Linked DNA regions of Homo sapiens. The protein of the gene in region 5 interacts with the protein of the main gene of each other region in a pairwise test. Each region holds a gene or a part of one and is shown on either strand. Other genes may lie near its edges.

Region 1 (3,500 bases), about 14 Mb from region 5:
TGACCCTTTTCTGGGCCCATCGCTCTTTGACCATTTCCCCACCTGGGTTCATTCCCCCAATCCCAAGCGCAGCTCCTGCAGGCCTGGAGCCCTGGGCTGTGACAGGCTGGTCCCCACAAGCCTGGAACCCTGCGCCGTGACGGGCTGGTCCCCACAGACCTGGAGCACTGGGGTCATGACGGGCTGGTCCCCGCAGGCCTGGAGCACTGGGGTCATGACGGGCTGGTTCCCGCAGGCCTGGAGCACAGGCTGACGGGCTGGTCCCCACAGACCTGGAGCACTGGGGTCATGACGGGCTGGTCCCCGCAGGCCTGGAGCACAGGCTGACGGGCTGGTCCCCGCAGGCCTGGAGCACTGAGGCTGACGGGCTGGTTCCTGCAGGCCTGGAGCACAGGCTGACGGGCTGGTCCCCACAGACCTGGAGCACTGGGGTCATGACGGGCTGGTCCCCGCAGGCCTGGAGAACTGAGGCTGACGGGCTGGTCCCCGCAGGCCTGGAGCCCTGGGCTGTGATGGGCTGGTCCCCGCAGACCTGGAGCCCTGGGCTGTCATGGGCTGGTCCCTGCAGACCTGGAGCACGGGGTCATGACGGGCTGGTCCCCGAATCCCTGTGCCCACCCCCCACAGCCTACGGTTTTCGGTATCCCACGGGCTCCTCAAACTCAGCCCAGTCAGACCCAGGATCACCACCCCCCAGCCAGCTGCTGGCAGCCAGAAGCAGGGGGCCAGCCCCACCTCACCAAGCCCTGTTCGCCTCCAAGCACAGGTGCTGGTTACCTATGCCTGGGAGGCAACTGTCCCCACAACTCATTTGCAACTGATATGTCTCCCCTCCAAGTCCCTCTCTAAATTTGTCTCCTGCTCCAGTAGATGCTACAGCATCACCCAATGGTTGACGCATCGCTCTGGTCACAATCCGTGCCTGCTCGGCTCACTTGTGCAGGTGTAAGCCCCTCCTGGGCGCGAGTTCAGGCTGGTCAAAGGCAGCAAGCGAATCAAGCCCTGGCGCGGTCCAGCCCCTGCCATCTGGGGCTTGGCCAGCAGAGGGCGCCCCCACTCCAGCTGAGGTTCCCAGGACCCAGACCTGCGCCTGGAGGTGGCCCCAGGGCAGCGGGAAGCAGGCCCCGGGTGTGGTCACAGACACAGAGCCCCAAGGGACAAGCCCATTTGCAAAACCCCTTTAATCAGAATAAATAGAGTCCCAGGCAGGGCAGAGTTCATTGGGGATGCCCAAGCCGGATTCACCCACCCTTCCAGCTCCAGCCTAGGCGCAGCTGCGGCTTTCGAGAGGCGAAACTGTCTTCCTTGTCCTGGTGTCCCAGCAGGGTCACTGGGAGGCAACAGTGTGGTCTCAGGGTGCTGGGCGGGCCCGTGAGGCCCATCGCCGTCCCCCTAGGCATCCTGTTCATCTGTGAGCAGGGCAGGGGGTGCCGCAGCCTCCTCGGTTGTCCCAACCCTGCCAGAAAGAGACATCACTGAGGGGACCCCATAAACATCAACATCCCTGCAACCTGGCTGGGCGCAGCCAAGGCCCGGCGAGGGACAGGCCAGACGCCCCACAGCCTTTCTCCTGAGATGTATTTTAGGTCCCTGTCAAAATGGCCAGGCTCCGGAGGCCAGAGAAGGCTCTAGAGAGAGTGAAGGTGGGCGCCGGGGGGGAGATTTTTGTAGGTCAAAAGCGGTCAAGTGTCAGCAATGTCGTGGTGTAGCCCCAGTGGCAGCCCTACTGTCCAGCCCTGGCCCCTCTCCCCTCCAGGCTCAGAGTGTCCCCAATCCCTCCACGGACCCTCACCTGCTCCTCTCCTCCCTCTCCTTCCTCTCGTAGATGGAGTGAAGCTTGTTGATTAAGAAGATTTTGTCCTCACCCTCCTAGAAAGGCCAGAACACAAAGGGGAGGAGAAATCATCCATCAGCCCATCCAGAGCCATCCTGTTCCAAACTGCATTTGAGGGAAAACTCACGAGGTGTATTCAACATCGCAAGCAGCAAAAACATAAAAGAAAAGGTGAAAGGGCCACCAAACAAGGACAAGGAAAAACCAAGAGCCAGGAAGTGGGCGTATGTGTGGATCTAAGCTTCCTAGTGGCCAAAGTGAAAAGGGAAATGTAATCAGCAGCCCAGAGCCAGCCTGACTCAATTTAAAACCAGCCCTGCCACGTACTGGCTCTGCCTTGGGTTACTAACTCTGTGACCTCAGTGGCAGCATCTGTAAAGGGGGATAATAACACAAGGCACAGGGTTTACATTAGTTTCCTGCTGCTGTCGTAACGAACTGTCATCAACTTCGTGGCTTAAAACACCACCGGTTTCTCAACTTTCAGTTCTGGAAGTGAGAAGTCCAAAATGAGTCTCACTGGGCTCCAGTCAAGCATGATCAGGGCTACATTCCTCCCGGAGGCTTCGGGGGAGAATCCTCTTCCTCGCCTTTTCCAACTTCTAGAGGCCCCTGGCTCTCAGCCCTTTCCTCCACTTCAAAGCCAGCAGTGGCTGCTCAAGTCCTGCTCACGTGGCACCACTCTGACCCTGACACTCCGGCCTCTGTTTTTCACCTCTAAGGACCCTGAGATCACGCTGGGCCACCACGATAATCTAGGGCCATCTCCTATCCAAAGTCAGCTGACTGGCAACTTTAATTCTACCTGCAATCGTAATTCCCCAGCCACGCAACGTAACGTATTCACAGGCTCCATCCAGTCTTAGGACGGGGACATCTTTGGGGCCAGTACTGGACTGACCCAGGGCTCTTTCGACAATGAAATGTGACAAGCAGAGGGGGCACTTAGCAAAGGATCTGGTGCACCGAAACACTGATCATCAGTGCCTGGGTCAGACCGGGATTCCCCGCCCGGAGCTTCACACAGAGAACAGGAGTTCTGTCAAGAGCCACACGGATTGGCTCTGGGCACCTGGCAACCTGGCTCAGCCTAGGAGGACCACTTAGAATACCTTCAAGGAGAGACCATGGGCCCCTTAAGCAACAACCTAAGTAGCTTCTATCGAGTTGCTGATGAGTATGGAGGGGCTGTGCACTTGAGCCATGCCGACCTGCACGGGGAAAACTCAGACCGACAGCCCCAAAGACGGGTCAGAGCTCGGCCTTGGGTAGACACCACAGCCAGCATCCGCCTGGAGAAAGGTCCTTCCCATCCCAGAGCAACGGTGGGTAGAGCTGGGATTCTCCCAGCACCACTCTGCATTCCCCGCCCGGACCCACCTGGCCCTACCTGGCCCCTGGGGGCTCTGAAATGCCACCCAGTAGGGCAGGAGCCATTCCCCACTTCCAATATCTACAGCCAGACAACCACCGCAGCCGAGATGCCAGGCTTTCAGCTCTATGTGGTGAAACGGGAAAGGCAGGAGATGGGACAGTGTGTACTACAGTGTTTACAACCCAAGCAATGTGGGAGCCGTCCCATGAGTGCTTGGGACGAGCTGGGACGAGCTGCCTGGAGCCCTGGATCCTGGCACCAACTAGCCAGCAGCAGGGTCACATGGCTGCC
Region 2 (4,088 bases), on a different chromosome or scaffold from region 5:
ATGAAAGATTAATTTTGGTTTAAGTTTGCACTTACCCTGGCACAGGATCCACTGGTATAGCAGCACACTCAGAAGAACTGCAGTCAGAAGCCCCAAAGCTATTGCCACAAGGCAAGAACAAGAAGGCCTGGAAGAGGAAGCTGCAACAACAGAGTCAAAGCACAATCCTGAGTCAGATGACAGGTTGAAAGAAAAGAGAAAGTCAGGGAAGGATATCGCATCTTAAAGCAATTTGGCCTAGTGGGAACTGAGATCCAGGCCATAAAGATTCCTTTTCTAGATGTGTCAGGAACTTGCTCTAAAGTCTAAGGTAACCACCAACACCTGTATCAAAGAACTTACTATATTTATCAAGATAAAGAATGCTTTTTTCCTTTGAAACTGTGACTTACACTGTCTCATACTTAGGTGGTGAGAATACAAATTGGTACCTCTTTGGAGGACAATTGGGCAATATCTACCAAAACGGCAAAGGCATGTACCCTTTGACCTAGAAATTTCTCCTTAAGAAATTTTTCCTACAGATACTCGCGGGTGCAAAATGTCATATTTATTCGTGGCAGCAATATTTGTAGGAGGAGAAGACTGAATACAATCTACATTCTATCAGTAAAAGGCCAGTCAAATACATTTTTGATATATCCATAAAGTGAATATATAGCTTCTAATAAAAACTGGCTTTTTTTTTAACTGATATGGAATATTTTGTAAGATATATAGTCAAGACAAAGAAACATTCTGCAGAACAGGATATACAAATATCTCTGCAAGCACACTCAAGAATCTGATAACATTGTTTGCCTCTGGAATGGAAAAAACAGTCACTGGAGACAAAATAGGAAAAAGACTTTTTACCCTATTTTCTTTTGTACCTTTTGAATTTTGAACCATGTAAACATATTATCTACTCGAAATTGAAATACATAAAATTTAAATAAAAATAATCTACATTTCAGAAGTGCTTTGTAAACTGTCGTTATTAAAAGAGCAGTAAGTTTAAGTTGATGCCAAGTTTAAGAATAGGACACTACTTCATGTTAGCTGTGTTGCATACAACCGAAATCTAAATTTTAAATTTGAAAAATGGAAGTATTTTCAGCAAATCTTTATTTTAAAATCAAAGGTATCTCATAGTGCAATAGTGTAGAAATTACGTGTAACGAGCAAAACTCTGTGAAGTAAGATGATATTTAACTTCTAATTTTGATTCCTTTGCTTAATAACATTTAATTAGGAAATTAAACTTGCCTATTTGGGCTTCAATTTTCTGATTAAATTTTAGATAAATTATTCTATATATGTGTGTATCTATGGAGTATTCTGAACTTCTTAAAGAAAAAAATTCATAATGAGAGATGCCTTCATAAATAGAGAATTCTGCATAATAAATATTTGGACTGATGAATCCAAAAGCATTAAGATTTCTAGAAAAACTTTTAAAAATACATTTGCATCACAGGAGAACATTTAATGAAATACACAAATGTTCATTTTTATGTTATGCTAAATTTTAAAAAGGTATCAAACCATAATTGAATTTGTGTAACCACAAGCCAATTCAAGAAGTAAAGTAAATTTTTAAAATTTACTTTAAGTATATATTGAAAGCCTCTAAATAGTTCCAACTAGGTTCCAATTTATCACCAGTTGTGTGTGTGACCTTGAACATATACTTTGAGATATGCATTACTTCTAACGTAATATTTCTATTCCTTAGAAATTAACATAGATACAATTCAAAAATAGGAAAAGGTTACACAAATAAAGATATCCAATGCTATATAATTTATGGTAATAGAAATAGGTCTAAATATCCCAAGTATACTAGAATGATTTAGCAAATTAAGGCAACACTCTCAAAAGACATTAAAAATTATAATAGTAAAACTATGTAGTAAAAAGAGAGAAAGCTTAGGGAACTACCCTAAAGAATACACCTTGTGGGAGTTCACTGCCTACGATACAAAATCAAGGATTAATTTTGGCATTTACACTATTACCTGTCTGTCTCAGATAATATTCTCTCAGGGCTCTATGTAAAAATGGCTCTTTTGCCTTCAAATCCTCAGTCACAGAGACTATTATCTGTAGTTTCTTGATACTTTTTCTTCCCTGTCACCATTCTAGTGCAACACTGTGAAGTTAAAAAAAAAAAACAAAACTAGATATGTAAATCAGTTTCTTTCCTGACAAAAATCTTACTCGTATCCACCAGCAAAACTATTGGTGTCCTCCTCATTCCATAGTCAGAAAAACAGCCATACCTAGAATTTAAACAGCTGGTCCAAGGTTACTCCGAATATAACTAAAGAGATAAAATTCTCCCAACAAAGTTCCCGCTTTAGCTAAGAGCAAGAAGGAATAACGGCAATGCCCTAAGTTGGGTTTCTAAGATGCGATCAAAGAAGTGAACAGTTAGAAAAGAGTTTACCTGAGACCTAAGATCAGATCCTGTACCATACACCAACTTTTCATATTCCAACTCTGGACTTTAAACTGAACCAAAAGTATTTCCTCAAATTATCCTCAATTCTTCTGCACCCTCTGCTTTAAACTTATTCTACTCCCCATTCATCCATAGCCTACTGTTGCTATGCATCGTCTTCCATGCTACCTTGGTTAACTCACATTTTTGCTGTGGTCCATAGTCATTCTGGGCTTGGGTTGCCGTAGGCAACTCTAACATGGAATAAATAACACTGTCAGTCATCTTCAGCTAAGATCTTTCACATGCAGTTGAGAGAGTTAAATTATAGAAGTGTGAAGGGATATGTATCAGTGAGGAAACAGCCCAATCTCTAAACTGCTAGCAGGAAACTTCACAAAAGCAGAAGTAATTTTTCAGGAAATGATTCAAATTTGGGGGCTGCCTATAGAAATTAATATTGTAAGTTGCTATTTTTTTGCCCCATGACACTGTAGATGCTCACTAAATATATATTAAATTGATTCCCCATCTCACCTAATTCTGTTGAGCAAGGAAAAATTGCTCTCAAGTCCAGCAATTTCAGTTATGGAAACTAAAATAAAAGTGAGAGTGGTTACTAGCTATGAATTTCTCTCGGAATTTTTTCTCTGCTTTGTTTCCTTCTGAAAAAGTAGATGTATGCCAAATGAGACTGACTTCATCATTTCTTGGAACTTTTGGGCAGTGATAAGCAATAACGAAATGGACTGTTGGGTGCATATGCCTGGAATCACGGGAGAAATAGACTATTACCCAGATATATTTTGTGAATATGACATGACCACATCTTCCCCAAAACCTTGTCCAAATTGTGTGATGGTCTTTACCCTTCACAGTATCAGAAATTCCATTATATTTTTTCTCTTTGTTGTCTTATTTTTTTTATTATTATACTTCATGCAAAGATAACTAAAAAGAAGAGCAAAGTAAACAAATACATTCTAACATCTTAGTAATTTGTTTTTAGTAGGTGAAAAGTTAATAAAAAGTTAGAGTAGGCCAGGTGTGGTGGCTCACGCCTGTAATCCCAGCACTTTGGGAGGCCAAGGAGGGTGGATCACCTGAGGTCAGGAATTCAAGACCAGCCTGGCCAACATGGTGAAACCCCGTCTCTACTAAAAATACAAAAAAATTAGCTGGGTGTGGTGGTGGGGGCTGTAATCTCAGCTGCTCAGGAGGCTGAGGCAGGAGAATGGCTTGAAACCGGGAGGCGGAGGTTGCAGCGAGCCGAGACTGCACCATTGTACTCTATCTAGCCTGGGCAACAAGAGTGAAACTCCGTCTAAAAAAAACAAAAGTTAAAGTAAGGAAACAGAAAGAGTATTGAAACTCTTAAGAGTGGATAAGATCATCAAGATAGACTGCATAAGGATAAAAGAAGAGAAACAGGGAGTGCTTTATATTAATTTGTTTTATATTAATAAAAACAAATATATTTCTGCTTCCAGCCATGACAGAATGGCATTAGACTTACTCTCCAATCAAAATACAACACATGGCAAGACACACAAGGCAGCTATTTTCAGGAACACACAGGCAGCATTGTGATCCTTGAGAGAATACAAAGGTGAGTGCAATGATCACCCTAGCTTTCTATCTAGGACCACTTTCTAGTACAGAG
Region 3 (3,500 bases), on a different chromosome or scaffold from region 5:
CCTTGTCATCCACCCGCCTTGGCCTCCCAAAGTGCTGGGATTACAGGCATGAGCCACCGCGCCCGGCCATTCACAGCACATTTTCTGAGAATGCATACAAAAGACAGAAATATAACAGAATGGCTGCCTATGGGTCAGAGAAGAGATGTAGAGTGGAATAGGTATATAGAAGGAAACAAATAAACAAAAGAAGAGCTTTGCAACAGAGTGAAATCACATAGTGCCATGAACTGTAAACTGAATGAATGATTCAACCTTCTGTATGTGAGTTAAAAAAAAAACAAAACCAACACAAAACAAAACAAAAAGAAAGAAAGGAAGAAAAAGCTGGGCATGGTGCCTCACTCCTGTAATCCCAGCACTTTGGGAGGCTGAGGCGGGCAGATGGCTTGAACCCAGGAGTTTGAGACAAGCCTGGGTAACATGACAAAACTCCATCTCTACAAAAAATAGAAAAATTAGCCATTGGTGGTGGCACATGCCTGTAGTCCCAGGACCTGGGCCCAGGCAGGTTGAGACTGCAGTAAGCCATGATCGTGCACTGCGCTCCAGCCTGGATGACAGAGTGAGACTGTCTCAAAAAAAAGAGGCCGGTGTGGTGGTTCATGCCTGTAATCCCAGCACTTTGGGAGGCCGAGGCAGGCAGGTCACTTGAGATCAAGAGTTCAAAACCAGACTGGCTAACATGGTGAAACCCCATCTCTACTAAAAATACAAAAATTAGCTGGGTGTGGTGGCAGAAGCCTGTAATCCTAGCCACTCGGGAGGCTGAGGCAGGAGAATCACTTCAACCTGGGAGGCGGAGGTTGCAGTGAGCCGAGATCCCAGCACTGCATTCCAGCCCGGGTGACAGTGAGACTCCAAAAAAAAAAAAAAAAAAAAAAAAGAAAGAAAAAATAGTGAAGCTGTGTGAAGTTTTATTTAATTGCAGAAGATTCTATTAGAAACAACATAAATACAAATCAAAATAAATTGTAGTACATCCATACAATGGAATTCTAAGCAGTTGGTGAAAATAGTGAGAAACTCTTTTATTTATTAATATGGGATAACAACATGTAAGTTTATTTTAATGAATCTTTTTTACAGCATACATGGTATATTTTTAAGTGGGGTGTGGTGGGAAGTAAAAGTACGGGACTGGCTGTTTGGAACCTTAGCATGTCCTCAATTTGCTTGCACTCGCATAAAATAGTGTTTGAAAGAGACACAAGAAACTGGCAACACTGGTTGCCTCCCAGGAGGGAGAAGAGCTGGGAGGCCAGAGGACAGGGGCGGAAGGGAGATTTTTCACTGGAGAATTTTGGTAGTTTTTGACTATTGAATCATCTGAATGTTTTATGTATTCAAACAATATTTTAAATATGAGTGTATGAAAAAGATGGGGAGACGCCACCTTAACCAGCTAGTGACCTCATTATATCACTGTTGACTGGTATGCATGTATTTATGTGTATGCATGTGTGCATCTCTGCACATGTGTGCCTGAGTACACGTGTGTGTGTCTATGTGTTGGAAAGGAGAGGAATGCAGTTTATGTTCAGCATTGGCAAAGGAAGCTGGGACTCAGCAGTGGGTAACGGTTCCACCAGACAGAGCTGGTACTGTGGAGGGGAGCTGACTCTGCACTGGCTCCACATCCTGGGTCCTAGAACCTACAGAAACGTGGGCTGTGGCTCCCTCTGCCCCGAGTCAGTGAAGTCACTCTGAATAGGGCTGTCCAGGCTCTGGATCCTGAGGACCAGTGAGCTGCTGGGAGCTCTGAGCTCAGAATCTGCAGGCTCAGACCTCTAGGGGTCTCCATATCTCTGAAAACCAGTCCCTCACCTGGAGTCTCAGGTTGGTGGAAACTTGATTCTAAAACAAGAAAGGCCAGTCGCATGAGAGAGTAGAGAGTAGATGGCACTGTTCTGACATCTGCAGGATGCACCGGCAGGAATTTAGAGGTCAAGTGGTCCACTGAGTGGCCGGCCAGTCCCTGCTTAGACACTCCAAGGGACAGAGAGCTCATTACTTACAGGCAGGACTCTCTTCTGTGCCCTGCTCAATTTCCAGCTCAAATGAGTGGAGTTTTCGTTCCCGATTCAGAGGAAACCTGCCTCCCTTCCACTTCTCCCCACTGGCTCTAATTCTGCCCATGCGAGCTCCGTGAGAGAGTGGGACTGAATGGTATAATACAATAATTAGAAGTATGGGTGTGAGAATGTTGACCTTGACACCTATTAGCTGTGTAACTACAGACCAGTTTCTTAACCACTCCGAGCATGTTTCCTCTTCCATAAAATGGGGAGGACCATAAACTCTACTTCACTGGATTGTTGTGAGGATGAATTAAGATAATGCATGAGAAGTAACATCATGCCAGGCACAAAGAAAACAGGAAATTCATTAAATCTCTTATTTCTAGTCTAACTCTTCAGCCCCAAGACTGTCTTGAGAGTTCGAGACCACGGCATGGCCAAGAGGCCAGCCCAGCAATGATATCTGTCTTCTAAGCTTTGATTTCCAGCCTTATCTGAGAAGTTGAAGTGGGGGGTAGGGGACACTCCTGCTGCCAACTGCCCGCACTCACCAGTGATGAGGTTGTCCACAAGGGTGGTGGGCATGCAGAAGATGCCCACCAGCAGGTCACTGACAGCCAGGTTGAGGATGAACATGTTGGTGACAGTATGCATGTGCCGGTTCTTGAGCACGATGAAACAGACCAGGGTGTTGCCCACCATGCAGAGCAGGAAGATGAGCGCATAGGCCACAATGAACATGGCCGCCACAGGGGAGGTGTGCTGATAGTAGGAGGAGAAGGTGAGGTTTGTAGCCGGGGTGGCCTCAGTGTTAGTCCCATTCTGACTTAGGGGCCAACTGCTGTTGGGAGGCTGGGAGGGCTCCCCTAGGACCAAAGGAATATATTGGTCAGGACCTTAGGCAAAGAAGAGATTACCGATTTCTCACCACTAATGAGACCCTCTGTGTGCCAAACCTTAACCATGCCCTGGTCCCCCAAGCATGTCCCCAGCTCCAGTTGCAACTTGATGCACTGATCCAAGACTTTCAGCCTACAACCACTCAAACCCTGGTCTTGTACTTCATGCCCTGTCTTGCCCATAACTCATTCTCCAATGTTGGTTTTTCTTTATTAACTCCCCCATCCCATTTAGGTTCCAACTTTCTTGGCCCTCCTGTGTGCCCCAGAGGCTAACCTCTAAGTTCTGCATTGCCCTGGTTCCCTTGTCTTCTGGCTTCTAGCTGGGTTCAGCCAATGCCAGGCCCTGAAGGAGATGGGAGGGCAGGAGCAGAGAGAGAGGTCAGGGTGTTTGTCTTCTGATTCCCTTCCTGCCTGGCCCAATTCTTTCAGCAGCTGTTTTTCCCTATAGCCACAGCCTGCTCCTATTGGGTGAGTCCCCTTTCATGGCTCTAGCCCTCACCTGACTACAGTAACACTCTTCCCTCTCCTTGCACTCAATGGTAACAGCTTCCTGTGGTTGTGAGTCCCTGGGTGCTTC
Region 4 (3,500 bases), on a different chromosome or scaffold from region 5:
GCGTGAGCCACCACGCCAGGCCAGAAACTGTAATTGTATATTTCTCTGTTCACTAATTCTTAAAGCAAATCTTCCAATTCTCTTTGTAATCTATTAGTAATACTTTACTCTTTTTCGTGTCTAATTAAGGTAGACCCTCCATAAAAAATCAGTAAGTAACCTCTAAAGTAGTTCTTTCTCATTCTGAGCATTTGGACAATGAAAGTGTACAACTGGGCTAATTCAGTTAAACGTATCATTAAACGATGTCAGAATTAACAGTGTGGCGTTTTGCTTATATAATCATGTTCTACTAAAATATTTAATGCTTAAGAGCACTTTATTTTGCTTCAATTCGTGTTTATGTAATGGAGGCCTACATACTTTTCAGAACAACATATTGTAAATATGTACACATGTACGCGTGCCACAAAAAATGCTGTTTCCATTTGGAAACAGTATATACTTAATAACAGTAAGTTTTAGCCAAATTAACAAATATATTGGAATTCTCTACAAGTTTAGTAAAGATGGATTATTCTAGGATCAACATTTATCTCTCCTCGTGGGTCAGTAGGCTTCCTACATTCCCTTATTTTTCATTAGTTGTTAGGAAGCTCAGAAAGAATTTTTGTGCTGACTTGCAATAGATTTTCTTAGCCAATCATGTTTTAAACATAACTTTGTCCTCTATTTGCCTATTTAGCTTTTCTATTCTCTGTTAATAGGTATTTATCCACATTTTATTGTAAGCTATCCCATAATCTTTTATAATTTGAAGAGGTATAAATATGATTTATATTTATCAGTGTGATTAAGTTTGAATTGCGATATTTAGTTTTTTATTTAATATAACTCAGAAAAGACTTACTTGCCAATTTTCTTTTACAAATCACACCTAATATAATGTTCTTATTGTCACCCCATGGACTTTAGAACAAGGTTCAAGATATTTGTAATTCAAAGACATTACAATTTGACATAACCTAATGTTTCTCTCTCATTTTTCATTATCCTCCCCACTCTGCTTTATAATTAATCCATATCAAAGTACTCATTTTCCTTCGAGTAGCCATAGTATTTAATCCTTTTGCCTTTTACTTCAATCCTATATGCCTTTTACTCAAGTCATCCAAAAAATTTTTACTTTTTTTCAAGACCAAATGACACTTTCCATTTGGAATTACTCATATCTCATTGCACTTTTATTCAGATTTGTATCTGACTACTTAAAATGTTATTTCAAATTCAAGGAGAAGAACTTGAGCTCACATTACATAATGAATAAGAATTCAGCAGGCAGAGAGAAGGTAAGGGAATGGCAAGATAAAAGCTACAGAGAGAGAAATGCCAGTAGCAGAAACCCAGGAGACTACATAGTTTAATCTGAGGGTAGGTGAAGTCTCAGGTAATAGTGAAAATGAGAGACAAGTTTGGAAAGAGTTTGAGTCAGAGTGTGTAGAGCATTGAATATAACACTGAGAGGTAGACTTCATTCCACCATAAAAGGACTTGAAGTTTTTGACTGGGAGATTTATGTAAAAATGATGTATGAGGCAGTTGTGAATCCTTTTCTTATAGCAGAAACTCATTGCTTTAGCTATGTTTGCTTTTGAGAGCTTATTCTAAATAAAGTTATAACCAATACACCATGTTTTATCATTGTTTAGGATGAAGTCAGATTCTTTTCTCCAGGAAATGCCAAATGTAACTAATATACCTCATGGGGACCCCATGATCAACAATGACCAGTGCATTCTTCCAATCAGTTTAGAAAAAGAAAAACAGAAAAACAGGAAGAATCTGAGCTGTACCAATGTGCTCCAGAGCAATTCTACGAAAAAATGTGGAATTGATACAATCGATTTAAAAAGAAATGAAACTCCACCAGTTCCTCCTCCAAGAAGCACCTCTCGAAATTTTCCCAGCTCGGATTCTGAACAAGCCTATGAAAGATGGAAGGAAAGGTTAGACCACAACAGCTGGGTGCCCCATGAGGGTCGAAGTAAAAGGAATTACAACCCTCACTTCCCTTTGAGACAACAAGAGATGTCTATGTTGTATCCAAATGAAGGGAAAACTTCGAAAGATGGTATCATCTTTTCCTCTTTGGTACCAGAAGTCAAAATAGATAGCAAGCCTCCAAGTAATGAAGATGTTGGACTTAGCATGTGGTCATGTGACATTGGGATAGGTGCAAAAAGGAGCCCCTCTACTTCGTGGTTTCAGAAAACCTGCTCTACCCCCAGTAATCCAAAATATGAAATGGTGATCCCAGATCACCCTGCTAAATCTCATCCTGATCTTCATGTAAGTAATGACTGTAGCTCCTCAGTAGCAGAGAGCAGTAGCCCACTTAGAAATTTCAGTTGTGGCTTTGAAAGGACTACAAGGAATGAGAAGCTGGCAGCAAAGACTGATGAATTTAACAGAACTGTATTTAGAACAGATAGAAATTGTCAGGCAATACAGCAAAATCACAGCTGCTCAAAATCATCGGAGGATCTCAAGCCCTGTGATACCTCATCTACTCACACAGGTAGCATATCACAAAGTAACGATGTGTCCGGTATTTGGAAAACCAATGCCCACATGCCTGTGCCCATGGAAAATGTGCCTGATAATCCCACCAAGAAATCCACAACAGGCCTAGTAAGACAAATGCAGGGACACCTAAGTCCTCGCAGTTATCGAAATATGCTCCACGAGCATGACTGGAGACCGAGTAATTTGTCTGGCCGTCCGAGGTCAGCTGATCCCAGGTCAAATTATGGTGTTGTGGAAAAGCTGCTGAAAACCTATGAGACAGCAACAGAGTCTGCATTGCAAAATTCTAAGTGCTTCCAGGATAATTGGACCAAATGTAATTCTGATGTCAGTGGTGGTGCCACATTAAGTCAGCATTTAGAAATGCTCCAAATGGAACAACAGTTTCAGCAAAAGACAGCTGTGTGGGGGGGACAGGAAGTGAAGCAAGGAATAGATCCGAAAAAGATAACAGAGGTGAGAAAGCAAATATAACATAATTTGGTAGCATCCATATTAGCAATGGCTCTGAATCATGTTTATATGTCCAATTCATATAAATAGAATGAGGGCACAAGTTTTGGACTCTTCTTAGCCTCTTGACCCTGTTTGTAAATAAATATAACTCAACATGAACCTTGAAGGTGTAGTTTTTAACACTGAGAATAGTACATTGTAACTTTTGAAAAATTCTGAAATGGGATAACATAAATACAGTAAGTGGATTTAGGAACCTGAAGAAGATCAAATGTTTGCTCTTTCTTGAAAAAATACTCAGAATGGACATTACTCAATTTATAGAATTTCATTATTTTAAAGGTTCTTTTTTAAGTGTATGGAAAATATTTTTAAAATCGTTTTCATTTTTCAGTTATTAACTATGATTGGTTCAGTCATTCTCAGCATTTGACTCATGTTCTTTCTCATAGGATTAATCACATTAATATGAATATGGGAAATACACATCATTTAAAACAGTGCCTAATAGAGTCCTT
Region 5 (3,500 bases):
CCTGTAATCCCAGCTACTTGGGAGGCTGAGGCAGGGGAATCACTTGAACCTGGGAGGCACAGGTTGCAGTAAGTTGAGATCACAACACTGCACTGGGCGACAGAATAAGACTCTGTCTGCAAAAACACAAACAAACAAACGAAAAAGAAAGGTGGCTGGATATAAGATTAATATTTTACAAGTCAGCATAGTGGTCATCTCTGGAGGGAGGGGCTATGGGGTAGGGAGAAGCACAGATGCAAGCTATTAAATGGTCTTTTGGGATGTTGGTCTGGGATGTTGATGAGATATTGTCCCTAATTTCACAAAGTGTTCCAACAGCACCAGGAAACACTGTGTTTATGCTGAACAACTGATTCATTTCTATCTTGTGGATTCTGAGAATGTTCTAATGGACCTTGTTCCTCTTTTTGCTTTGATTGTTAACACACAGCAAAAATTTCACCTCTGCTTCTAGCAATCTTTGGGATGCGTTTGTGCTAAATGGGCCATAGCTTTATTTCCCTGCCTTTATTTTTCTCTCATCCTGATTTCCTCATTAATTGTATCTCATTGAACAATACATAATTTTTATAAGTGGTCCCAAGTCATTTTTTTGGAATAAGAAAAAAGTTAGTTAGCTAGCTGGCCAGAGATACTGGCAGAACCTGTCCTTTCCCTCTCTTTTAACAAAGTTAGGCCTTTGTTGGGTAATTTAAAATTTAATCTTCAATTTTAAAACGAGTACTACAATTTGCGCCTGCTGCTATATTCTGAGCAATTAATTTAACAACAACAACGACAACAAAAATGGTGTCTGACCAGTCCATGAGATGAAACAAGGTGACGGTTTAAATTCAAGTCATTTCCCACAGCATTACTCTTTGGAACTCCCTTTTTTGTCTTTATATGCAACTTACAAGCTCCTGATTTAAGAAGCCTGCTGGATGAGCTCTCGACACACAACTTTCTTTGGACCAGCCGGGCACGGTGGTTTATGCCTGTAATCCCAGCACTTTGGGAGGCCGAGGCGGGTGGATCACTTGAGGTCAGGAGTTCAAGACCAGCCTGGCCAACATGGTGAAACCTCATCTCTACTAAAAATACAAAATTAGCCGGGTGTGGTGGTGGGCGCCTGTAATCCCAGCTACTTGGGAGACTGAGGCAGGAGAACTGCTTGAACCTGGGAGGCAGAGGTTGCAGTGAGCCAAGGTCATGCCATTGCACTCCAGCCTGGGAAATAAGAGCAAAACTCCATCTCAAAAAAACCTTTTTTTCCTTTGGACCATATTAATTTCTCTGCACTCCTCAATTAATATAGTTCCCTCCCAACCACTCTCTTCCCTCTCAGAGACAGTTAGGTCTCCTTCCATTACCTCTTCAGTACTTCCTCCTTCATTTTAAGCTATGCTGTGTATTCCAGTGACTCAACCAGGAGATACTAAAGAGCAGAAATCAAGTGCACGGAGCCAGACCTGGGCCAAATCTCATCTCTGCTACTAACAAAGCTGTGTGACCTTTGGCAAGTCCCTAAATTTCTCTGAGCCTCAGTTTGCTTATCCATACAATAGGCACAAGGAATGTAAGTATAAATGAGAACCTGAGTTTAATTACTTAAAGTAGAGTTCCTGGCACCTATAAAGTGCTTGAGAAATGTTAGCTAGATTCTTCCAGTTACAGAAATAAAGTCGACTCTTTTTTTATTTTTTAATTTTAATTTTTTAGAGATGGGGTCTTACTATGTTGTCCAGGCTATTCTTAAACGCCTGGCCTCAAGCAATCATCCCGCCTCAGCCTCCCCAAGTGCTGGGATTACAGGCATGAGCTGAAAATCAACTATTCAGAGCTTTAAAGCTGTGTCTCCACTACATGTTTCTAGGGATTTTTTTTTTTTTCAAATAAAAACCATATTTAAGGCTGGGCGTGGTGGCTCATGCCTGTAATCCCAGAACTTTGGGAGGCTGAGCTGGGCAGATCACTTGAGGTCAGGAGTTCGAGACCAGCCTCCTGGCTAACATGGTGAAACCCCATCTCTATTAAAGATACAAAAACTAGCCAGGCGTGGTGGCAGTTGCCTGTAATCCCATCTACTCGGGAGGCTGAGGCAGAAGAATCACTTGAACCTGGGAGGTGGATATTGCAGTGAGCCGAGATTGCACCACTGCACTCCAGCCTGGGCAACAAAGATAGACTCCATCTCAAAAAAAATAAACAAAATAAAAAGCATATTAAACATTTTCAGGTTAATTTAAAGCGACTTCTCCAGCCTCCCAGTTTTGCTCACTCCACTGCGTGCTCTCCACACGAGTCATTCATCTGCTCTCCTGTTTACTGAACGAGCTGCCCATCCCTGGCTGGTTATGCCCTAGACCAGCAGACAGTGCTGGGTACAGAAGGGAGTCAGACATACCAGATTCAAACCCGTGATCCCACAGTGCTTAGCTGGGTGATCTCGGGAGTTATTTAACCTCTCTGGGCCACCACGTCTCTGCCTACGAAGTAGGAACATGAATACCTGCCTTCTCTGGTATCTTTAACCTAAACAGTGACTGCGCCAAAGTGGCTGAGGGCACAGAAGGGGCCGTGTATATATTGCCCAGTGCCTGGCCTCTGGTTGACATTCTCTGCCTTCTTCCTTAGCACCATTCATAGCAAACATTTAAGGGGGTTTTTCTGTGCCAAGCACTGTCCCCCATACTGGGGGTTCAGAGAACAGTGAGGCTGGCAGTGTCTGCCCTTGGAGAGCTCATTCTGCACTCCACAACTCTTCCTACTCTGGGCCTTCCAGCCTCAGCACAACCCTTGCGTGAGCCTCCCACTAACCAGTCCTAGTTCATTTGATTTTTATAAAAGCCCTCCCTTTTTAAAAAACAATTTTAAAGCAAATTTGGCTAATGCACCAAGCAGTGGTTTTTCCAGTAGGGATGGTACCCACTAGCATGGGGCCCGTCCACCATCTTGTTTTTCTAAGCAACTCTAACACACATTATCTGCTCAAATAAACAAACTCGGCAGGGTGTGGCGGCTCACACCTGTAATCCCAGCTCTTTGGGAGGCCTAGGTCGGTGGATCACCTGAGGTCAAGAGTTCGAGACCCGCTGGCCAACATGGTGAAACCTAGCCTTTACTAAAAATACAAAAATTAGCCGGGCATGGTAGCGGGCACTTGTCATCCCAGCTACTCAGGAGGCTGAGGCAGGAGAATCACTTGAATCCAGGAGGTAGAGGTTGCAGTGAGCCAAGATCACATCATTGCACTCCAGCCTGAGCAATAGAGCAAAAACTCCATCTCAGAAAATAAATAAATTAACAATAAACGAACTCAATGGATGCACTGGCAGGAACACCACATTCCCATGGCTAGCTCGAACAGACAAGGGAGAAGAGAGGGCAGGATGGAAAAAAGAAAAGCATTTTATAAACTCTGTTGAGATATGAGTCTCAGCTCTTCATCTTAACACAAATATCATCGACAAAACAACAAAAACAGTGACCTAGTTTTTACCGCCACAACCACCACC
Region 6 (3,500 bases), about 25 Mb from region 5:
GGTGAGCCGGCATGCAGGGCCCTAGGCTGACCACACTTCCCCCACAGAAGCGGTACCGCGCGGTGTATGACTACAGCGCCGCCGACGAGGACGAGGTCTCCTTCCAGGACGGGGACACCATCGTCAACGTGCAGCAGATCGACGACGGCTGGATGTACGGGACGGTGGAGCGCACCGGCGACACGGGGATGCTGCCGGCCAACTACGTGGAGGCCATCTGAACCCGCAGCGCCCCCATCTGTCTTCAGCACATTCCACGGCATCGCATCCGTCCTGGGCGTGACCCGTCCATTCTTCAGTGTCTCTGTTTTTTAAAACCTGCGACAGCTTGTGATTCCTACCCCTCTTCCAGCTTCTTTTGCCAACTGAAGCCTTCTTCTGCCACTTCTGCGGGCTCCCTCCTCTGGCAGGCTTCCCCCTTGATCGACTTCTTGGTTTTCTCTCTGGATGGAACGGGCATGGGCCTCTCTGGGGGAGGCAGGGCTGGAATGGGAGACCTGTTGGCCTGTGGGCCTCACCTGCCCCTCTGTTCTCTCCCCTCACATCCTCCTGCCCAGCTCCTCACATACCCACACATTCCAGGGCTGGGGTGAGCCTGACTGCCAGGACCCCAGGTCAGGGGCTCCCTACATTCCCCAGAGTGGGATCCACTTCTTGGTTCCTGGGATGGCGATGGGGACTCTGCCGCTGTGTAGGGACCAGTGGGATGGGCTCTACCTCTCTTTCTCAAAGAGGGGGCTCTGCCCACCTGGGGTCTCTCTCCCTACCTCCCTCCTCAGGGGCAACAACAGGAGAATGGGGTTCCTGCTGTGGGGCGAATTCATCCCCTCCCCGCGCGTTCCTTCGCACACTGTGATTTTGCCCTCCTGCCCACGCAGACCTGCAGCGGGCAAAGAGCTCCCGAGGAAGCACAGCTTGGGTCAGGTTCTTGCCTTTCTTAATTTTAGGGACAGCTACCGGAAGGAGGGGAACAAGGAGTTCTCTTCCGCAGCCCCTTTCCCCACGCCCACCCCCAGTCTCCAGGGACCCTTGCCTGCCTCCTAGGCTGGAAGCCATGGTCCCGAAGTGTAGGGCAAGGGTGCCTCAGGACCTTTTGGTCTTCAGCCTCCCTCAGCCCCCAGGATCTGGGTTAGGTGGCCGCTCCTCCCTGCTCCTCATGGGAAGATGTCTCAGAGCCTTCCATGACCTCCCCTCCCCAGCCCAATGCCAAGTGGACTTGGAGCTGCACAAAGTCAGCAGGGACCACTAAATCTCCAAGACCTGGTGTGCGGAGGCAGGAGCATGTATGTCTGCAGGTGTCTGACACGCAAGTGTGTGAGTGTGAGTGTGAGAGATGGGGCGGGGGTGTGTCTGTAGGTGTCTCTGGGCCTGTGTGTGGGTGGGGTTATGTGAGGGTATGAAGAGCTGTCTTCCCCTGAGAGTTTCCTCAGAACCCACAGTGAGAGGGGAGGGCTCCTGGGGCAGAGAAGTTCCTTAGGTTTTCTTTGGAATGAAATTCCTCCTTCCCCCCATCTCTGAGTGGAGGAAGCCCACCAATCTGCCCTTTGCAGTGTGCAGGGTGGAAGGTAAGAGGTTGGTGTGGAGTTGGGGCTGCCATAGGGTCTGCAGCCTGCTGGGGCTAAGCGGTGGAGGAAGGCTCTGTCACTCCAGGCATATGTTTCCCCATCTCTGTCTGGGGCTACAGAATAGGGTGGCAGAAGTGTCACCCTGTGGGTGTCTCCCTCGGGGGCTCTTCCCCTAGACCTCCCCCTCACTTACATAAAGCTCCCTTGAAGCAAGAAAGAGGGTCCCAGGGCTGCAAAACTGGAAGCACAGCCTCGGGGATGGGGAGGGAAAGACGGTGCTATATCCAGTTCCTGCTCTCTGCTCATGGGTGGCTGTGACAACCCTGGCCTCACTTGATTCATCTCTGGTTTTCTTGCCACCCTCTGGGAGTCCCCATCCCATTTTCATCCTGAGCCCAACCAGGCCCTGCCATTGGCCTCTTGTCCCTTGGCACACTTGTACCCACAGGTGAGGGGCAGGACCTGAAGGTATTGGCCTGTTCAACAATCAGTCATCATGGGTGTTTTTGTCAACTGCTTGTTAATTGATTTGGGGATGTTTGCCCCGAATGAGAGGTTGAGGAAAAGACTGTGGGTGGGGAGGCCCTGCCTGACCCATCCCTTTTCCTTTCTGGCCCCAGCCTAGGTGGAGGCAAGTGGAATATCTTATATTGGGCGATTTGGGGGCTCGGGGAGGCAGAGAATCTCTTGGGAGTCTTGGGTGGCGCTGGTGCATTCTGTTTCCTCTTGATCTCAAAGCACAATGTGGATTTGGGGACCAAAGGTCAGGGACACATCCCCTTAGAGGACCTGAGTTTGGGAGAGTGGTGAGTGGAAGGGAGGAGCAGCAAGAAGCAGCCTGTTTTCACTCAGCTTAATTCTCCTTCCCAGATAAGGCAAGCCAGTCATGGAATCTTGCTGCAGGCCCTCCCTCTACTCTTCCTGTCCTAAAAATAGGGGCCGTTTTCTTACACACCCCCAGAGAGAGGAGGGACTGTCACACTGGTGCTGAGTGACCGGGGGCTGCTGGGCGTCTGTTCTTTACCAAAACCATCCATCCCTAGAAGAGCACAGAGCCCTGAGGGGCTGGGCTGGGCTGGGCTGAGCCCCTGGTCTTCTCTACAGTTCACAGAGGTCTTTCAGCTCATTTAATCCCAGGAAAGAGGCATCAAAGCTAGAATGTGAATATAACTTTTGTGGACCAATACTAAGAATAACAAGAAGCCCAGTGGTGAGGAAAGTGCGTTCTCCCAGCACTGCCTCCTGTTTTCTCCCTCTCATGTCCCTCCAGGGAAAATGACTTTATTGCTTAATTTCTGCCTTTCCCCCCTCACACATGCACTTTTGGGCCTTTTTTTATAGCTGGAAAAAACAAAATACCACCCTACAAACCTGTATTTAAAAAGAAACAGAAATGACCACGTGAAATTTGCCTCTGTCCAAACATTTCATCCGTGTGTATGTGTATGTGTGTGAGTGTGTGAAGCCGCCAGTTCATCTTTTTATATGGGGTTGTTGTCTCATTTTGGTCTGTTTTGGTCCCCTCCCTCGTGGGCTTGTGCTCGGGATCAAACCTTTCTGGCCTGTTATGATTCTGAACATTTGACTTGAACCACAAGTGAATCTTTCTCCTGGTGACTCAAATAAAAGTATAATTTTTACCTGCGGACTTGGTTTCCTCTCTGGCTCTGAGCTGCTGTTGTGTGTGTCTGTGTGTGGGTGTGTGTCTCTAGCTGTAAGGTGCTGCTGTGTGTGTGTGTGTCTAGCTGTAAGGTGCCACTGTGTGTGTGTGTGTGTGTGTGTCCTGTCTGCTTGGGGGCACTGGCCTGTGGCCCTCCTGGGACCTCTGCTGCCCCTCGGGGAGAGAATGACTTGTCTGGATGCCAAGGGGGAGTTTGCTGCTGTCTGTCAGGCCCTTGGCCCCTACTTCCTCCTTGCTGAGAACTCCCCACCAAC
Region 7 (3,500 bases), on a different chromosome or scaffold from region 5:
TTATGGGGGAAAATGCTCAATGACTAGGAATCAGCAAAAAAACACCTCCACCATGTGGTGCTTCCCCTCCAGAAGAACTACCAGCCCTCAGGAACAGCACCCGCTCCCCTCAGAAAAGGACAACTCAAGGGTAAGCTGCAGCCACAGACTGGCCCAGAACATAAGCAGGACAGGCAGGAGACGGAGCCCAACCCAGAACAGTGACGTGAAACAGATGGGCAGGAGTGTGCCCTTTGCCCCAGCCTGATGCAGCCCTTCCCACAGGTGGTGGGGAGGACAGGCGCGCCTTGCTAAGAAACTGTCTCGATAGCACTATTATTAATCTTTTGGTCATTTTTCATCAAGCGGTTTTGTGCAATTCATGATGCTGTTTAAATGACCACAGTCATTATTTGAACGCCATCTGTGGAAAGATAAATGTATACTTAAATTGTGGGTATAATTTTAACTAGTTTATTCACTCATTTTACCTCATTTTGTCTAGTTTTAACTATGATTTTGAGTTATCCTTTTCCAGATCTTCTTCATCCTCAATAACCCAATTTATAGAGTTGACCACATGTTTGTTTTTAAGCATATGTAAAATCACTGGAATCATACAGGTTAGGGTGGTAGAAGTGGGTTTTAAAACCCCTTTCTCTGTTTTAATCCACAATAAATCAGTAAGTACTAACACTGTTTATGATAGCAAAAAATAGAAACAACCCATATATCCAGCATTAAAGGAATTAAATTATAGTCCATCTATATACAAGGGAATATAGTGAAGCCATAAACGTGATCATACAGTCCTGTATTTTTTGACAGAGTCACAACGTATTAAGTAAGAAAAGCAAGTTAGCAGAAGGTGGAGTAGGCACAGGATGGAAAAATATTACGTTTTTCACTTCCGGATTGTATGACTGAAGGTAATTTGTTTTTCTTTCTGCGTATCTCTAGTTTCTGATTTTTCTACAACAAACTATTTAATTTCAAATAGATACATTTTAAAATTGGCAAAACAGAAGTAAAAATTAGGTGGAAAATGATACTAACTTGGTTTCAAAGGCCCACCAAGGAGGCCATCTGTTAAGAGTAACTCATATGCAAAATAAGCCACATGGGAACAGAGACACGTATCAAGCTCACAGGCAGGCGCGGGCTTACCTTCAGCCCAGCTGCTACATGCGGTGGAGTGTCCACAATTTGCCGGTCATCTGAGGAGCCACCTCGCTTCAGGTCAATGACTGGGGCGAGGACTGTACTTTGTTTCGTCCTTTGGCTCTAAAATCATCAAAAACAAGGAAAACATACTGAAGTTTCAAATTAAAATTCACACTGTTTGCAACAAAGATTTTCTTTCTGGTCCCTGCAACAAACCTTTGAGATATGAGAAAACCATAATCTCAAAACAACAGCCTTTTAATTTATTACTATAATCATATATTATTTTCTTTCAGCTTTTTCAAAAACATGAGATTTTCTCCATTTCTGTGAAAGGTTTACAGTAAACTTAGTCACTTTCAAAAGATACTTGGGGATAAGAGTTTTGTTCCCTCCTACTAGGATATAGAATCCTTCCTATCTCCTTTATTATGAATCTACAAAAAAAAGTTTTTAAAAGAAAATCATTTCTATACATTCAATTATTGTTAATGTTCTACCATACTTCTTGCCCTTACACCTGTATTTTTTGCTAGACCATTTGAAAGAAAGTTGGAGACATCATGACACTTCACCCCAATCTCCTGAAACCGTGGACATTCTCCTGTCAGATTACTACCCCTAATAAAATCACTAATTCCCATGTCATTTCCCATCCAGTTCACATTCAGATTCTCCAAGATATCCCAAAAATGTCCTTTAAACAGCTGATTTTTTTTTTGAACCAGGATCCTACCAAAGTTCCTGAAATGCTTTTGGTTTTTAAGTGTCTTGATTAAGAACAGTCCCTCTTCCCCATCATCATCATCACCATCATCTTCATCTCCTCTTCCTTTTTTTCCTCTGACACTATCTTGTAAAATGCTGTTTGTTCTAGATCTGTCTAATAACTACCTGGTTATTTAGTTGAGCTTGTTCCTCTATGCCTTGTAATTCCTGAAACCTGGAGGTTAAAGGCCTGATCGAATTCAGGGTAAAGCTTTTAGGCAGGAACACTTCCCAGGTGAGGCAGTGTGCCCCTTCCTGCAACACACAGCAGGCACACTGCGTCAGGCCGTCTAACAGCAATGCTAAGGTTGATCATATGGGTATGGTGGTAACCATTAGATCTTTTGATTAGAAAGGTTTAATTTTTCTCTTTTGCAATTTAAAGTGTTACAAATTTTCATTACCACTATAAAAGGCACAAAATAAGCCTTCATCTCTCTTGAATATAACAATACTTATAAATTTAAGCAAACAAAATTTAATCCAATTAACAACTCACAAAGTAAATACGAAAGTTTACAGAACGGAAGGGGGATTTATTAGAATCACATATTTTCTTTCTTTCTTTTTTTTTGAGATGGAGTCTTGCTCTGTCACCAGGCTGGAGTTCGATCTCGGCTCACTGCAACCTCCGCCTCCCAGGTTGAAGCAACTCTCCTGTCTCAGCCTCCAGAGTAGCTGGGATTACAGATGCACGCCACCACACCGGGCTAATATTTGTATTTTTATTAGAGATAAGGTTTCACCATGTTGGTCAGGCTGGTCTCAAACTCCTGACCTCAGGTGATCCACCCGCCTTGGCCTCCCAAAGTGCTGGGATTACAGGTGTGAGCCACCACGCCCAGCCAGAATCACATATTTTCTATTATTATTATTTTCTATTCAATATAGAGTTGGCCCTCTGTATCTACAGGTTCCACATCTAACCCCAGGCTGAAAATATTAAGAAAATAAAACAATACAACAAAAAATACAAATAAAAAAACCAATACGGTATAACAACTTTTTACACAGCATTTACATTGTGTTAGGTATTGCAAGCAATCCACAGATGATTTAAAATATGGGAGGATGTGTGTTAGTTACGTGCAAATACCACACCATTTTATATAAGGGACTTGGGCACGCTTGGATTTTGGTATGGGCAGGGGGGTCCTGGAACCAATCCCCTGTGGACACCAAGAAACAACTGTATTTTTTCAAATGGAGATACAAATGAAACCACAGCTTCAAATTTTCTCTACCAAATAAATACCTTTACAGGTTTGGCTAGGCCAATCTAGTATTCTGAGTAACTAAACAGCCTAAGAGAATGCAATCTTCACTTCCCTTAAAAAAAAAAACCCACAAAACTAACTGTACATAGCAATCTCAAAAGTTTTATAAAGTTAGTAGAAATAACTTCACAAGCTACCTCAAGTTTTAAAAATCTATATGAGGCCGGGCACGGTGGCTCACACCTGCATCTTCCCTGCAAAGCAAAAGTTACATGAAATCTACAAAGATTTTATAAATGTACTTTTAAAAAAAATTAAAGAGAAAAACGAGGTTTTGCTAACCCTCCTTACATTTGGAATGAAACCTTGTTT

Evidence for each region.
Region 1: the proteins of PECAM1 (region 5) and TMC6 interact in binary tests that used the Homo sapiens proteins (3 or more experiments, as listed by UniProt).
Region 2: the proteins of PECAM1 (region 5) and KLRG1 interact in binary tests that used the Homo sapiens proteins (3 or more experiments, as listed by UniProt).
Region 3: the proteins of PECAM1 (region 5) and NPFFR1 interact in binary tests that used the Homo sapiens proteins (3 or more experiments, as listed by UniProt).
Region 4: the proteins of PECAM1 (region 5) and KIAA0408 interact in binary tests that used the Homo sapiens proteins (3 or more experiments, as listed by UniProt).
Region 6: the proteins of PECAM1 (region 5) and LASP1 interact in binary tests that used the Homo sapiens proteins (3 or more experiments, as listed by UniProt).
Region 7: the proteins of PECAM1 (region 5) and RBM17 interact in binary tests that used the Homo sapiens proteins (3 or more experiments, as listed by UniProt).

Annotation. Positions count from the first base shown.
Region 1 is NC_000017.11:78,111,756-78,115,255, forward strand, and holds part of TMC6 (transmembrane channel-like protein 6), read right to left. Parts: intron 1,870-3,500; coding exon 1,793-1,869; intron 1,457-1,792; coding exon 1,393-1,456; 3' UTR 1-1,392. UniProt on the Homo sapiens protein: Acts as a regulatory protein involved in the regulation of numerous cellular processes. Together with its homolog TMC8/EVER2, forms a complex with CIB1 in lymphocytes and keratynocytes where TMC6 and TMC8 stabilize CIB1 and reciprocally.
Region 2 is NC_000012.12:8,988,258-8,992,345, reverse strand, and holds the start of KLRG1 (killer cell lectin-like receptor subfamily G member 1), read right to left. Parts: upstream 2,801-4,088; 5' UTR 2,711-2,800; coding exon 2,629-2,710; intron 2,135-2,628; exon of another isoform or gene 2,001-2,134; intron 141-2,000; coding exon 36-140; intron 1-35. UniProt on the Homo sapiens protein: Plays an inhibitory role on natural killer (NK) cells and T-cell functions upon binding to their non-MHC ligands.
Region 3 is NC_000010.11:70,263,505-70,267,004, forward strand, and holds part of NPFFR1 (neuropeptide FF receptor 1), read right to left. Parts: intron 2,888-3,500; coding exon 2,573-2,887; intron 1-2,572. UniProt on the Homo sapiens protein: Receptor for NPAF (A-18-F-amide) and NPFF (F-8-F-amide) neuropeptides, also known as morphine-modulating peptides. Can also be activated by a variety of naturally occurring or synthetic FMRF-amide like ligands.
Region 4 is NC_000006.12:127,445,890-127,449,389, reverse strand, and holds part of KIAA0408 (uncharacterized protein KIAA0408), read left to right. Parts: intron 1-1,649; coding exon 1,650-2,982; intron 2,983-3,500.
Region 5 is NC_000017.11:64,380,861-64,384,360, forward strand, and holds part of PECAM1 (platelet endothelial cell adhesion molecule precursor), read right to left. Parts: intron 1-3,500. UniProt on the Homo sapiens protein: Cell adhesion molecule which is required for leukocyte transendothelial migration (TEM) under most inflammatory conditions.
Region 6 is NC_000017.11:38,918,558-38,922,057, forward strand, and holds the end of LASP1 (LIM and SH3 domain protein 1), read left to right. Parts: intron 1-47; coding exon 48-221; 3' UTR 222-3,213; downstream 3,214-3,500. UniProt on the Homo sapiens protein: Plays an important role in the regulation of dynamic actin-based, cytoskeletal activities.
Region 7 is NC_000010.11:6,099,034-6,102,533, reverse strand, and holds part of RBM17 (splicing factor 45), read right to left. Parts: intron 1,264-3,500; coding exon 1,147-1,263; intron 1-1,146. UniProt on the Homo sapiens protein: Splice factor that binds to the single-stranded 3'AG at the exon/intron border and promotes its utilization in the second catalytic step. Involved in the regulation of alternative splicing and the utilization of cryptic splice sites.